Regions from separate parts of the Homo sapiens genome. Here region 1 is linked to region 2. A link means that fine-mapping ties the variant in region 2 to the expression of a gene that starts in the linked region. Tissue or cell type: whole blood. Region 2 holds a variant in brackets; the other region holds the start of a gene. All regions are shown on one strand. Distances are from middle to middle.

Region 1 (8,103 bases), 240 kb after region 2:
TAAATTAAATGCCTTCCAAAAACCCACTTCACAATGAAATTATATTACAATGAAAGTTTAGGCAAACTTTCAATCAAAACTGAATGCCTGCTATTTATGTACTACAGATGTTGACAAAGGTTCTGCCCTACAGAAATTCCAGCCTAGGTGAAGAATGACACCCCTGAAATCATTTAAGTAGCTAACAAGGCAGTACACAATTAGGTGTCAAAATGAATGATGAATGATTAACAAAGACCACAAATTCAGAGGGAGCATGCAGGACTGAACAGAAATGGCGAAAGGCGGTAGGAGAGAGGCTGCTGCAGTGCCCCATGGTGAAGGCAGTGGGAGAGTGATCAAAAGAGGATGTAACAGGCACTGATGCCACTTGGTGAAGGGTCAAAACTGAATCCAGTGGGGCAGGCAGAATAATCATAGCATTAATAAAAAACTGAAAACTGGAGGTGGCGCAAGATAATTCTGCCCTGGACACATGCAGTGTGCACCAGCAGCTAGACACACACAGGGAGGAAGACAACCAACAGGCAATTGGAGAGCAGCAACTGTCAGCTAGGGCACAACCAGAACCGAGAAGTACAGAGTCACCGAAACAATGCCAGATGCTGCTTACAAGAGACCGTAGGGGAAAATTCAGCTGTAGGAAAAGGGCCTCTTGGTCTGGCAAGGCCAATCAGAGCGCTTGAGTCACATATAGGCAAGAGAGAGAACACCTAAAATATCAAGCACCTAGCAAAGATTTTATTTTCCTCCAAGAGTAATTTGGCTTATTGCTACTCTGGATAGTAACAATTAGATGAGTTTACATCTACTCCCAAAGCAATCTTGTTGGCAGATGTCTATGAGGGTCCACTGTAAGAATTAGAAGGAGGAGGAAAATGGTCATTAGCAAGAGGAAAAAAGGACACACTTTTTCCAACTACAAAACTCCAATGCTCCATCAGGCAACAGCCTTTAGTAAAAGCAGGCTACAAACGTTCATTAGTGAAGCACTTATTAAATAACATTCTATTTACAAGGCCCTAAATTAAAAGGTACCCACTCTACCCCATACAAAGGGTTAACACATCTCACTCTTAAGAAAATCACTTTCAAAAACATTTTAACATTATCGAGTAATAAGTAGGTTAAAAATAGTTTGGTTAAGAAAAAGTAAATAACACTCCTAGTCAATTTGGCTACCCTTAGAAAACTATTAGATTCTTATCTGTTTTCTTGTGGTCTTTAGTCCTATGCACTTTTCTCATATGCTTTGTAAATACTTTTGTACTGTGTTTTGCACCTATGTCACAAATACAGCTTAAAACAAAAATTTGTGCATGAAACTATAGTACACTGGCAAAAAATTTTTAAAGTCCTAATAAAGGCTGTCAAACGTTACCCTGCCATTTAATTGCCAATTAATAAAACATGTGACAATGAAATTTAAATTGTCATAAATTGAAACATTCTTGAAAACTTATTCGAATTTATATTTACTAGATACATAAACTATAGCTTCTCATTTATAATAAATGCCTTCCAAAAACCCACTTCACAATGAAATTATATTACATGATATATAATGCTTTTTTAAAAAAGGTCTTATTTGCCAGTCATAATGGGCTGCTTTATAATTCAAAAGACTACTAAAAGTATACATTTAATATATACACATACACATGTATTTTCACTATATATTTTAAAAATATATTTTCACAACTCACACACATTTTTGCTATTCTCAGTATCTAGATGTTAGCCTCAAGACAAAATCTTGCCACCAATCTAGAACTAGTTATTTGTAGTGATTATAACAACTTCTATCTCTGGAAACTCTTTCAAAGTCCTTACAAACTTTACATCACAGCCAAAACCATCTCAAAGGTACCTTTCCTCTGGACTAGTGATAGCACACTCCCATAGCTCAGTTAAGTCATATAGGATGTTAAGACAAGGAATGGTCCATGCTTCTGACTCAAGAAAATCAACATCAAGTCCAAACATGAAAAACTACATTAGGTAATTTATTTCTGCAGCTTTTCTTCAGGAGACAATGAGTTTTATTGTCTTTTAAAGATTTTGCAGTGAAATTATACAGTAATGAAGGAAAAGAAATACAAACATACAAAATACCTGCAGAATCATCATTAAAACTGCAGGTAAATCTTAACTTTGAAATTTTAAACTAGTTTATGCTACTTCAATAGACACAAAATTCCTCCGGGTGTGAATGATCAAACTGAACTCAGCCATCTTCAGAAATCTGCCCAAACTTGCTGAAAAACTCAACAGTACCTTTTAGGACAAATACTGTATTTGTGCCTCATCAGATGCCAGACTCACAGTGTCACAATCACGTAAGAAAATAAATTGCTTTTCCCCTACTTACTCAGAAACAATACTGGAATATGATCAGTTTTAAAGGAGAAGCCATTTCTGGAGATACCTTCACAGAATATTTGATTAGAACCAGATCTGTTTATGATGGGTAGAGGCCTATGTTCTATATCAGCATCATCTCCATTAATATCTTGGATAACCGCACACACAAATTGTTCATACAGAAAAGCATGGGCCACAAAGGATATCTGATTCACCCAGGCCACTGGCTGATTCAACCACCCCTTTAATACATACTTAACACCCTGGCAAGTATTCTCCTCATCCAATCCTTACACACATTTATGGGTATTAGAGAGGTGCACTAACATGTATAAACTATGCAAATGAGAAATTAGCAAATATATTTTAGGCTGACAGTTCTCAAACAAAAGGTTTGTTTACTTAACTTTACCCAGAGTAAAGTTTTTATTAGCATATAAAATGGCTGTTGGAAAAATCAGCAGCAGTAGAAGGAAAATACAAACTTAATGCTTTACTAGATTCAACCATTATTTCAATTCCCTGTGCTAAGGGCGCATGAAGACAGTCATTCACTCAAAGGCTAAGCGCCAGTGTGTCTGGCACTGTGCAAGGTAAGCAAAGGAACAGAAAAACAAGGACACAATACCCACCAAGGTCTACTTGAAGTCCCACCCAAAAAATGTCCATTAAATTACTGCACTATTTTGGGTTCACTGAACACCCACTACAGGCCAAAATGCTAGGTGCCACGATCACACATAAGAAAGAACACTCAACTAACTGCAGATCTGTGGCCAATGATGTATTATGACAACCCCAGGACCGACTAGTCCTAAAGCGGCAATATTTTATTCTGGAAATAATTTTGCTTCCATCAATTAATCCTTTCTATAGACGACAATTCTTTGAATAATTTCCACCAATGTTAACTCAGACTAAGGTTGCTTAGAGAGTTAGATAAGGGAATGTAATGTGGACAAAAATAAAAGAAACAGTATACTGAAGCACATTTGCACTTTAATACTAATTTGGTTTGTATTTGCTTTCACCTTCAGCAACAATAAAAAGCAAGTGACTTTAGTCATAAAGTAGAATGTTAACTCTAAAATTACCGTGGCAAGAAATTGTTTTCTTGTACAGGCAGTTTCATGTGCAATGCTAAACTAACAAGTTTTGCGTGGTTTGTTTTTTTTTTAAACTATTCACTTAGTCAATTCTTCATGAAGGCTCTGTGACCATTCACATGTCCCTTGGCTCAAAAAGAGGTAGTGTAGATGAAATTACACTGATTTGGTCTTCAAGATTACAAAATAATTTTTGACCCTGTCCAAGTACCCGTTTTGCAGCAGTACAATACTAATGAGATTTTTAAAATAGGGGCCAGCCCTTAACTGTAAATTATAGATAAATGCTTGCAAGCTGGCAACTTCACGTTTATTTTTAAAGGCTTTCACATCAAAGATAAAGGCACCGAATCACGTATTTTAAAATAAGAAATGTAAACAGGCTTTCAACAGCTTACTAAAGAGTTAAATGGAATTGTATTTAGGTCTAATAATAAAGTTATCAATAACGCAGAGACACTAAAGGAGGAAGCTACAGGACCAAGATTTCCCCTCGAAGAAATGTCTGAACAAATTCAAAGTGAAATTTTTTAAGCTGTGTCTCGCTATTTTTACCACATTTTAAAGTAAGCTCTGTCTGCATGCAACCAACCGCAACCAAGAAAACAGAAGTGTCCTAAAATGTACCTATTCGCCGCAATAAAGCCAAAAAATATGCCCCTCCTACCTAGCGGGCCAAGTGGCAAGAACGTACGAGAAGTCAGGAAGTTTTGAAATGGCAGTGACAGGAGACGGGGGAAGGCACGGGAAGGAATCACGGAGAGCGAAGGCCACTCCGTGCGGCGGGCGCCGCGAGGTCCCGGCTCGGGACGGTACCCGACCGCCCAACTTTGCGCCGGAGCCCCGGCCGCGGCCCTTCCTCCCGGCCCAGCCCTCCCGGCCTCCGCGAGAGCGGGGTGACAGCCCCGCCGCAGGGACGCCGCCGGGGGACACCCACCTTCCTTCTCGGCCCGCGCCGCAGCCACTACGAGGGTCATCACCAGGTGCAGCGCGCCTAGGAGGCCGGCGGCCGCGCTCCGCGGGCCCCCGCTACGGGCGGCCGCAGGTTCCAGCCCGGCCCCGGCGGACGTGGAGACGGCGGCGGTGGTGGCTCCGGTTGCTCCTCCTCCCGCCCGCTTCCCCATCCCTGCCGGCCGGGGGCCGCCGCGCTCGAGGTCCGGCGCGGCCCTTCTCGGCGAGGCGGCGGCGGCGCGGAAGCCGTGGTCCGGGCTCTGGCCGCGGCGCCGGGAGCGACAACGGTTGCGAGCCCGGGGCTCGATCTCCGAGCGTGGGCCTGGGTCCGTGCGTGCGTGTGAGCGAGAGTGTCAGTCACGGTCTTTGCCTGGGCATCGCCTACAAGCAGTCGGAGCGGAGAGGCCGCGGGTCAGGCGCGGCGGGCGGCCATACTGGAAACGGGCACGGCCCGCGAGCCCTGAGCGCTGGCCTGCGAGGGGCGGGGCGCGGCTCTGGGCACCGCCCACGCTGTGCCGACACCTGGGCTGTCCGGCGGTCAGTCTGTCCGCCCCGGAGCCCCCTGGGCCCCACCTCCTCGTCCCGCTCTCGGAGGCCTGCGGCTTCACGGCCAGACAGAACCAGGACAGAACAACCCCAGCCCGTTACCGCTACCTGGCGCAGGAGAAGGAGGGAGGCAGGCCCAGGTCCAGCTGCCAGGACTTATGATGGCGGCTTCTGCTTCGCGGAGGCGGTGTCGGCAATCACGTGGAGACGGGGCGGCCTCGCCGCGCAGCCGCCGCGTTGCGTGGGCGGGGCAGGGGCGGAGTTGCGGGGCGCTAACCTCTTCTCCGGCGCCTGGGCAATCCTCCGTGCTCTGTCCTACAGTGGTAGAGCCTTCCAGGGGTGTGAGTGCGCATACAGACCGCGAGACGAGCGCGGAAGGTCCGTTCCAGTGACTCTTCCTGGTGGCACCCCCACCTCTCGACCGCTTTGACGTCGAGAATACCCCGGGCCTGACTCAGTTCTTGATGGTGCTTCCTTGAGGATGGTGGCCCGCTGAACTCATCCTTGGGTCTTCCAAATCATGGTACCCAGGAGGAGCTTGATGGAGTCCTCTTGCCTTGGCTTGTGCCCACATTGGCGCGGAACACCTCGTGTGCAGAAAGCGTCGGTGACTCTGGATGGAGAAGGCAGGGGCAAACAGACTGCTCTTTAGAATATCCAGTAGCCGGCTTCCTCTCTCGAGGAAGAATTCTTTTTTTTCTTTTCTTTATTTTTTAATTATTTATTTATTTTTGAGACAGGGTCTGGTTCTGCCGCCCAGGCTGGAGTGCAGTGGTGCGGTCTGGGACTACAGGCACCCGCCACCACGCCACGCCAATTTTTCTTTTTCTTTTAAGAAACGCTGTCTCACTATGTTGGCCGAGCAGGTCTCGAACTCCTGGGCTCAAGCAGTCCGCCTTCCTCGGCCTTCCAGAGTGCTGGGATCACAGGCGTGAGCCACTGTGCTGGGCCCGGAAAAATTCTTAAGACGTCTGTTACCTTCACGAGCCATCTCGCGCCTCTTAGATGCCCTTTTCATCTTAGGTTGAGCTTCTTGGTGCGCATGGCTGTTGTCTCCAAGACTTAATTTAAGCTCTTGGAGGGGGTCCTTCTTTACTCATCTTAGTAACTTCCTCCCAGCTTGTAGCCCAGAGACATTTTACTTTCCTTAGCTGTATTTGTTGAGTGAGTCGATATATGTGTAAGGCCAAGTCTGCCCACAGTACGTCTCAGAACAAGCTAGATAGGAAAATAAGGTTTCAGAAAGACAAAAGGAACTCCAGAATCTACTCTATGAAGTAGTCCCCTGTGTCAAGCAAGCACTTAAATTTATTCATAAATTAATATATATTTAAATATGACCTTAGCCTAATGATTTTAAAAAGCAATTTTAGGGCAGGGCGCAGTGGCTCACGCCTGTAATCCCAGCACTTTGGTAGGCCAAGGTGGGCGGATCACCTGAGGTCAGGAGTTCGAGACCAGCCTGGCCAACATGGTGAAAACCCGTCTCTACTAAAAAATATAAAAATTAGCCGGGCGTGGTAGTGCATGCCTGTAATCCCAGCTACTCCGGAGGCAGGAAAAACGCTTGAACCCGGCAGGTGGAGGTTGCAGTGAGCCAAGATAGCGCCACTGCACTATACCCTCGACAAGAGCAAAACTCCGTCTCAAAAAATTAATCATAAGCAATTTTACTTTTTTGAATATTAGCCTTAAAATTGAGTAGTCAAATTTTATTTTGATGTAATGAAATAGGAATAATTATCTCTTAAGTTGGCGTTTAAAATGTCTGAGGCAAGAGATTTCTGGAAGGCTTTTGACTCACGGAAGAGATCAAACCCAAGGATATGTAACTGAGCGCTTTTGCTTAGCCTCCAACGTGCTAGCTCTGCAAGTCAGCAGCCCTTCCCCCATGGCCAGATTCAGGACAAACAAGCCTTTCCAACCATGAAGTGCTGAGGTTCTCTTACACAGCAATCAGCCACATCCCCTGGTTAGCCTGAGGCTCAGCAGCTCCATGGGAAATAACTTGCACCTGTCTGTAATTGGATCTTTAGACGTATACAGACATGTTTGATCAGAGTTCGATTTCCCATGCAGCTAATGAAGCTTAAGCCGCAGGGCCCCCTCTCTTGCACAAGTTCCTTCCAAGTCCCTGAACCTAATTGTGTATTTATAAGCCTGTATTCTTGTTCTTAAAGGAGCCCTCCCAATAGTTGGGTAGGCTTTTAAGGCCCACCATACCTGAACCCTCCCCTGTGCCTGAGGGACACTAGGAGCAGGAGGGGTGATGATGGAACTTTCCTCCCAGGAAAGGACAATGAGGCCACTGAGAGTCTAACAGTGAAAGACGTTTTGCTAGACAGCATGGTAAACTGTGTGTTAGAGAGAACCTGGCGTGGAGCCACCATCACCCTATGATCCTCTACCCCCACTCCCCAACCCTCATGTGTCTCAGGAGAGAACCAGGAGTTAAAATTGAAGGAACCATCACACTAAGGACTCTCAAATAGTTCTGATTAGTTGTGAACTTTTCTCTTTTTCCCTTTTGGAAATTGGAGAGACCTGGCCATTTGGCAGGTGGAGGTATTAGCTGGCAGAGTCAGGGAAAACTCGCTAAACCAGTGGTTCTCAAGGTGTCATCCCCAGACCAGCTGTAGCAGCAACACCTGGGAACCTGTTAGAAGTGCAAATTAGCAGGCCAAATCCCAGACCTGTGGAATCAGGAATTCTGGGTTGAGGTCCAACAATCTGTTTAAACAAGGCATCCAAGTGATTCTGATACAGGCTCAAGATTGAAGACTGTTGCACAGTGATATATGCCAGGAGCTACAAGCTGTTGGGACTCCTCACTTTCTGTTCATTTTGCTCTCTATGCAGGTTAGTAATTTACCATTCAAGGCAGAATTATAAGAGACTCAGACAAATTTGAACTTAAATCCCATCCCTGCCTTTACTAGCTATATGATGCTGAGCAAATGACTTTTCTGGCCTCAGATTCCTAATCTGTAAAAATGGGGATTATGATATAAATTTGGGGAGATTAAGCATATAGGTTTGTGAAGCATATAGACTAGTGTCTGGGACATAGGAGACTGTCAAAAGTAGCTATTAGTGAGCACTCACTCTTTTCAAAACACCACATTAGGCACGAAGA
Region 2 (8,100 bases):
GGAGCAAATGTTTTAGTCATCTGTGATGACCTAATTTCTGGGATTGGTCTATATTTTAAGGGTGAATTTAACTCTGTGGTAGCATTTTGAAATAGGAACAAGTAAAATTAGGACAAGGCTACTCAAAGGCATCTCTAACAAAATTACTAAAGCGTATTTTTTACATTGAGAGTTAATAATTTGGTGACAAAAAGGAATCTTTCTTCAAATTTAGCATAACTAAATCACTTTACTTGTGTGAAAATAATTCAAAATCAAAGCTGTTGAAATTTTATTTAGAGCCTTAAAGGAATGTGATGATGAGGCCTGAGTCATGCAACAGGCACCTATAACCTGTTTCTCTGATCATAGACTATCCTTTTTCTTTACCTACACTGTTTTGTAAAATGTTATAAAAAACTCATGGGCAGCAGGGAAGACCCCTTTCCTCCTAACTGTTGATCGTCATTATAATTTCCCTCTTTCTTCTCTTACACAAGGACCTCACAACTACTATACTCTCTAAATCACAATGTTAAATATAGTCTTTTCAATTGGAAAGAAAAAACATCAAGCTGTAACTAATCAAATTGCTGTAGCTCATAAGCCAGACTCATATGGAAAATGCCGTGATTCCACTAAATGTGTTTTCTGCCTGTATAAAAGAGACCTTAACCTTTTAGCTCCGGAACACTGACCCCTTTCCTTTGGAGTCTGTGTTTCCCGGATGGCTAAAACAGTCTTTTAAATGAGATTCTGATCCTTTACATTATTTCAGGTTGTCATGAAAAATCCAAATTCTAATTTCACTCCTTTGATACACAGTTTAGGTAAAAAAACATTTAAAAAAGATTATACCTTTGTTTATACGTATTTATATAAACATATAAGATACCTGGGCATAGCAGCTCATGTTTGTAATCCCAGCACTTTGGGAGGCTGACGCAGGAGGATCGCTTGCGCTCAGGAGTTTGAGACCAGAGGGGGCAACGAAGCAAGACCTCATCCCTATAAAAAACAAAAAATAAAAAAATAAAAAAAAATTAGCCAGATGTGGTGGTCCGTGTCTTTTGTCCCAGCTACCTGGGAGACTGAGGTGGGAGAGCTGCTTGGGCCTGGAAGTTCAGGGCTGCAGTGAGCCTATGATTGTGCCACTGCACTTCAGCCTGGGCGACAGAGCAAGACCCAGTCTCAAAATAAATAAAGACATCCACTATCATTTCATGTAAATATAATTATATACAACCTGTAATTTTAAATTCAACCTTGGCCTAGTACAAAGCGACTATCATGCCAACAAGTGTTCACTGTAAACAGACTGAGTTGTGTCAGATCTTCAGATTTGGTGGGTATGTTGCCACTCAAATACCTACCCTTAGAGTAATTATTTGGAAAGCACAAGTAACAGAAGAGACCCTTGTTTGTATCTTCTCCCAAGTACACAGTGTTTCTCTCAAGCCTGCTGGCGAGGCTCATGGGGTGAAATTAGAACTTAAAAAAGGAGTTTGGTCGGGGGGGGTCTCAGGCGATTGTTCTGATGAAGCAAGTTTAGAATCAATTCCTGAGATACTCTTTCTGAGGAAAAGTCTGCCAATACAGTTTTTTTCTTATCTTTTTTTTTGAGATGGAGTCTTGCTCTGTCTGTCTCCAGGCTGGAGTGCAGTGGTATGATCTTGGCTCACTGCAACCTCCACCTCCCAGGTTCAAGTAATTCTCCTGCCTCAGCCTCCTGAGTAGCTGGGATTACAGATGCACAGCACCACCCCCAGCTAATTTTTGTATTTTTAGTAGAGACGGGATTTCACCATGTTGGCCAGGGTAGTCTAGAACACCTGACCTCAGTTGATCCGCCCACCTCGGCCTCCCAAGGTGCTGGGACTACAGGTGTGAGCCCCAGCGCCTGGCCCAGTTTTTCTTTGGTTTAAGTGAGGGTTTATATGAAGCTCACCTGTATGTAGAGCTTTACACGTCATTATCTGCTTTGGTGTAGAAAGAGAATCCCAAGACTTGAATTTGTCCTGATCGTGCAAGTGCACGTAGGAAACCCTGCTGCTAACATTGTACAAGGCCTGATGTCAGCCTACACACCATAGCTCTGGTTGCACAGGAAATCTGGTGTCCCCGAGGGACAAATCACAAGTTGTCAAAACAATGAGACTTGTTCTGTGAGCTTTGGTATAAAGCAGAGAAAAGGTCAGGTTCACAATCACGCCAAATAACATTTTGACTAAATCACTCCCACCTTCATGGGGATAGTTTTGATTTCATGATGTAACTAGCCTCCAACAGAACATTTATGTTACCTAGCAAAGCCTGGCTTTAACACAGACTGGAAACAAGACAATGAGAAAAGCAAGTTGGAACAGGCAAGATTAAACCAACCGATGCGTTGTGGCGTACCGAGACTCGCCTCGTGTCTGTGTGAACTCAACAGGGACCATGGAGGAGCTGAAAGTCTTAAAATTGGAAAAGGGTCAACACACTTCTAGTTAAAAGAAAAAAAATAAAATTTAGATGTGTAGTCTTTACTACTGCACCTTACAGGCTTGGCTAAGTCATTTCCAGTCTGCACCAAGGCTCCGTTTCCAGCAGCCCCAGCTGGTATTTCTACATGGCACCCTGTGTGACTGCCACCTGTGGCTCCATTCCTCAGTAGCACACAGGTTGCTTTCCATCCAGCCTGGCTTTGGGGTATAGCTGTATTAGCAGGTAAACTGCTAAAGCATTTTAATACCAGTGGGTAAATAGCTGTTTCTAGTACCCCCAGCCCCTGTGCCATAGCCCAAGGCATCCCCCCTTGTCTCCAAGCCATCATTTAGAAATGAAAGGGCCAAAGGGGCACTGCATGCTGTGTTGCTGCTGGTAAGCTCCCACAGGTGGCCCCCAGAGCCCTCCCCCAGGCTGCCCGAGTCCCTGCTGTCTTCCCTCTGTGCCCCTGCTGTCTTCCCTCTGTGCCCCGCTTCTCTCCTTTTCTGTCTTCCTCTCACCATACAACTTCCTCAGACTGAAGGCTGGTAAAGGTTGGCCAGTGTTAGAACATGCAGTGGTGAGTTGGACACAGACTGTTCCTGAGAATGGTGACTGTGACCAGAAGGAAGGCAGCACAGTGGGTGCCATGTGAATCTGCGGTCAGCCTGACCTGGGGCCTCTGAGCCAGCACTGCCCAGCCAGGTTCCTCAAGTATAATGGAGTAACCCAACATATCCCAAAGTGTTAGCCAGGTACCTGACAGAGTCAGTATTCAATAAATGGTAGCAATTACTGCTTTTTATGAGGCCTTTTAGGATAGTGGCAGAGGGAAAACGCTTACTGGATGAATCCAAACAGGCTTTCAAGTTGTTTTCGATCAAGGACCCTCCATGATTGCCATGGGAACACACAGAACTCCATTAGACTGCAGGAAGTTCCAGCAATGAGAAGGCAAACCCCGTCTTAACCTGTCAGCTCCACAGAGTAAGGCAAGGATAAGGTGGTTTACTTTGGTGTGAGAAAATCCTAATAAATACACCTTGTGTGTAAAAAAAACCACAAAACAAGGCTTTTGAAAAAAGCATCATTTATTTCAAAGTACAACACAAAGTTGTATTTTTAAGAAATACACATTCAATCTTGTATCTCAAGACTTGGCTATGTGCATTTCAGTTCATCTTTAAAATAAGTTCAGGTATACAAATGTTACATACCTCAAGTACAAACAGCACAGAAAATGCATATGGTCTCAACTGAATGTTTTTACATTCATTCAC[C/T]GTTCTTAAGTTGACTTACATTTCTGTAATCTGCTTTTAAACCAAGACAGCCTTACTTTAAAAAAATACTCTATTTTCAGCACAAAGTCCTCATACAGTTTTAAAATTAGATCTTGGCGCATAATATTGAGAAATTATTAAAAACCAAACTTGGTAATTTAACAAAATTGTCACATGCCAGGATTTCTGAATCAACTCAAATTATTTCCTTAGCTGTAATGTCAAATCTGTGTTCATACAGATAAATAAAGCATGGGGAAGACAGGTGGTGAAAACGCAGTAACGGGAAAGGTTCTCAGATGTACAGGTCTTATTAGAGTTTGTGGCTGAGTCCAGACTTTTCTCTAAAAGCACAACAGCAAATCTCATGTTATCATAATTGCAAGAAAGATCTGAAAGAAGCGAGTGGTCTGAGCCTGCCCTGCTTGGGTCTGTTTTGCAAAGAAGAGGAGGGTGGGGAGGGGAGCTGCAGTAAGAGCCTTAAAAAGATGTCTCAGAAACTGGCACATCATGATCTAGACGAGGGCCCACTATGTTTGTTTGTTTTTTGCTTAATTTAATTCTCGTGAGGAAAGTGCGAATTAGACCAAGGGTCCGAGCTTCTTCTTCCAATCGTGGGGCTCCATATCCGCCACGGGTTGTAGGTCTGTCCCAAGTCGTCAGCTGGACTGGAGGTGGAGGGAGCGTGAGGAGCAGGGGAGTTTTCTGTGCCCATGAGGCCGATGCTTGCCAGCGTGTTTGCTGGAGTGGTGAAGGGAAGGGCGCTGCTAAGGTTGCTGGACCAAATGGAGCTGCTGAATGGAGTGGTGGACCACAGGCCGCTGGTGTTACCGAGGACCGACTGCGACAAAACAGAAAGCGTCCAGCACTGAGCCCGGCAGGCAGAGGGTCAAGTGGGTAAGGGGGTAAGGCTACAGAAAAGATGAGGCTGGGGCACGCATTCCTCTTACTTTGTTTACTTTAGAACAAATGTTATATATATGTATTTGAGCAGATGTTTCTGATTTTTTTGAGACAGGGTCTTGCTCCATCACTCAGGCTGGAGTGCAGTGGTGTGATCATGCCTCACTGCAGCCTCAAACTCCTGGGCTCAAGTGATCTTCCCACCTCAGCCTCCCAAAGTGCTGGGATTACAGGCACTAGCCATCATGCCGGCTAGTTGTGATATTTTAAAAAAGACAGCTTGTGGACCAAATCCAGCTCTGCCTACTTTTGTAAAGAGAGTTGTATTGGAACACAGCTGCGCCCATCGGCCTGTGCACTGCAATGGCAGTGGTGAAGCATGGCCTTCAGAGCCTCAAATAGTTACTATCTGACTCTTTATAGAAAGTTTGCTGACTCCCACTTTGGGAGGCCGACGTGGGCGGATCACGAGGTCAGGAGATCGAGATCATCCTGGCTAACATGGTGAAACCCCGTCTCTACTAAAAATACAAAAAATTAGCCGGGTGTGGTGGTGGGCGCCTCTAGTCCCAGCTACTCAGGAGGCTGAGGCAGGAGAATGGCATGAACCCAGGAGGCGGAGCTTGCAGTGAGCCGAGATTGTGCCACTGCACTCCAGCCTGGGCTACAGAGCAAGACTCTGTCTCAAAAAAAAAAAAAAAAAGTTTGCTGACTTCTCTTTTAAAGAATGGTTAAGGTGGTTTTAAAACATAAGGCTGAATAATTACACATGAAGACAACCTTTGGAATCTGTAAAGTTGAAATATCTGTTATAAAACCTTGCATGTTTAGTTTCTCTGAGAACAAAGAGGCAAACACAGTGGGGTCATATTTTTCTGTCATAATTTTGTGGAAGCCAAAACCACTAATTATTTTCCTTGGCAAGAATACTCTTTTCAGCATGGTCTTTGCAGAAGACTTTAGCCAAGAAGCAAACAAATGCACTCTTGAAAATCTAACCTAAGAGACAGGTGCTTCTCAGCAACAAAGTAAATGCAGTATCTAGCTTGCTCCTGGGTGGCCAGTGGCTGCATTGCACAGATGCCGAAGGCTTCCCTCAACCATCTGAACCTGCCATAGGCCTATGGTCACCCTTGTGGTCCATTTACAGGTTGGGAAGAGGCAGAAAATGCCCTTGAGCTATTAGGAGGGACTCCAGAGACCAACCCCATAGCTGTTCAGTTGTTCTTCCTAAAACTTCCTGATTGTAATGGCTCTGAAGAACATCGATCAGTCATTTTGACAGAATATGAAGACAAAGCAATGGAGACAATAAAAGTACTAACCCACCCCTCTGATGCTGCTGTTTGTTGTTTATAACTATGTCAGTGCCATCCATGTCACAGCAATGGCAGATGGCGAGTGGGTGGGCCAGGTCCAGGCCCCAGCCCCAGCCCCAAGTACTCACTGTGGCTGTGTGGGTCGGGGAGCCGGAACTGGCTGGCCAGGAAGGACTGGGATCTGTCGCTGGCGACTCCCAAAGGTATGAAGGGCCACTATTAAACTCGTTCCAGCTCCTCTGTGAGGCCTGATTGCACGATCGAGATAATCCGAGTTTGCTGAAAACTTCTGGAAATAAAGCAACAGTCATCAAGTCCATATTTGGTTTTGCCATGATCACTATAGCATATGGGGCTTCACTCAATGGCATACCTCCAACCACTGCTCCTGGAGCCACCACACCCACTTCACCAGCCCACCACAGCCCAGAGGAAGTAGGGGCAGGAGTGTCCTCCAGAACTCAAACGCATAGTGCACGAGCTGATATGCCACCAATGACATCCAAATGCAAACTTTCCCCACTCTCACATGATAGCTAATGGGAAGCTTCCATGGTGACCTCTAGTTCTGGACAGCAAGAAGAGGACCCCTGGCACACTCAGGGGTCCCATTTCAGACCAGAACCCTTCTGTGAAGCCCTTCAATACCCGCCATGGAACTCACACCAACTGGTGTGCGCACACCGTGTCGAGCCTGGTCCACTGCCCCTCTGGGCTGCTGGTGTGGATGAGGGAGGAAGAGGGGAGGGGACCCTTCCCAGGGAGCTTCCTGCGGGGCCTCTTCCACAGTGCTGCTGTGCTGTGTTCTCCAGCACACAAAACCACACCTCCTCTCCCTTCCTCTGTCCACAGGCTTATTAGTTACACATCTAGTGTTAAACACTCACCACCAGTTAGATTAAAAGAGTTTCCAAAGGCGGAGAACGAATTGAGGGGAGTGAAGTCAGGGCTGCTTGGGTTGCTGACGGGACTCCACAAACCCGAGCTAAATGTTACAAGAGGAAAACGCAACACACAAAAATGTATGGTGGTTAGTGCAAACGGATCCATAGTGCACAGCTTCACAAACAGGAGACACTGCTTCAACTGGGGGTACTCAAATATTAAAAACAGACAAAAGGAAGAGCTGAACAATGGCTGCTTACCACAAGGGTTGAGTCGGAGGGAGCCCCAGAGCTCCGGATGCCCTATCACTAGCTCACAGCCAGGTTCAAAGCAAGTGTTTTGCAGAGAAACAGACATTTTTTCCTTCTGTTTGCTTTTTGGTACTGGAAGATTTATTTAAAAACTATTTCAAATCTAGAACTCATTTCCTATTAGTGCAAAGTAGGTAAATTGGGGCTCTATTGTTGCTTATCTGGAAAAGTCAACCAAGGTGACTGCTGCAGGCCACCACACCCCCTGCATGATAAACAAGCCTGCTCAAGAAAGAGGCGTGGCCAGTGATTTACTATAAATTGGCTAGTATTTGCTCCAGATTTCCCCCCTCCCAAGTCACTTTCGCTCTTCTATTTTTAATGATCAGATCACATCTTACCACAGACCAGGAGATGGAGGAGAGTGAGAACAGGTGTAACGTGTGTCTGCCTGGCTGAGACAGGCATGGGTGCCCCCTTTCTCTATCTGGACCCCCTGGGGAAGGCACCGCAGCCGGCTTTCTGCTTCCACCCAGCAGACATGATTTCTTAGAGGCACTTGACCACTTCTGACAAATGCCTCCTTGTAAATTAGGGGAAAAATGCCCTGAAACCCATTTATGGATAAAAAGGTGCTAACCCGACTTGAGAAGCCTTCCGTCTTTCTAGCGGTTAGTGGTGGTCTACCGTACCTGTCTGAGCCATCGCTGTCAACAGGAGCGTGTGAAATGCCAAGGCTGCTGGAGAAACCTGTTTTGTTTGAAGAAACTTTAGCAAAGCCATTCCCACCTGTAACAATGGACGTTCAATCAATGGAAGGCACATTAGGACAGAGGTCATTCCACCAGGCCTGGCGCCTGGCGTGGCAGGTCTCTGAAGCAAAGGCACTGACCTGGGCTCTTGTCGTAGCCAGCCGTGACTGCAGCAAAAGTGGGGTTGCCGTTCTTGCCCGGGAGCGAGGCTGCCTTTGTCAACTTGTGTTTGCTTCCATTTGGCTGTTTTATTTTAGGGTCACTT

The links. PIP is the estimated chance that this variant, and not a neighbour inherited with it, causes the effect.
Region 1: it holds the start of TMEM131, and the variant in region 2 is fine-mapped to the expression of TMEM131 in whole blood (TOPMed, PIP above 0.99).

What each region holds. Positions count from the first base shown.
Region 1 is chr2:97,991,069-97,999,171 of GRCh38, forward strand. It overlaps TMEM131 (transmembrane protein 131), which reads right to left and starts at 4,880. Exons shown (of 41, transcript NM_015348.2): 1 at 4,408-4,880. The coding sequence starts at 4,594. It overlaps LOC124905591 (a long non-coding RNA gene), which reads left to right and starts at 6,575. Exons shown (of 2, transcript XR_007087148.1): 1 at 6,575-7,826. RefSeq lists enhancers at 2,914-2,993, 4,626-5,139, 5,310-5,589 and silencers at 4,170-4,729, 4,840-5,089.
Region 2 is chr2:97,752,818-97,760,917 of GRCh38, forward strand. It overlaps TMEM131 (transmembrane protein 131), which reads right to left. Exons shown (of 41, transcript NM_015348.2): 37 at 7,976-8,097; 38 at 7,776-7,872; 39 at 6,835-6,932; 40 at 6,076-6,236; 41 at 3,519-4,566. The coding sequence ends at 4,282. It also overlaps a transcript of ZAP70 not described here. Among named protein-coding and RNA genes, the nearest start is that of ZAP70, 43 kb to the left of the region's middle. The variant C/T (reference allele first, on the strand shown) is at 3,726.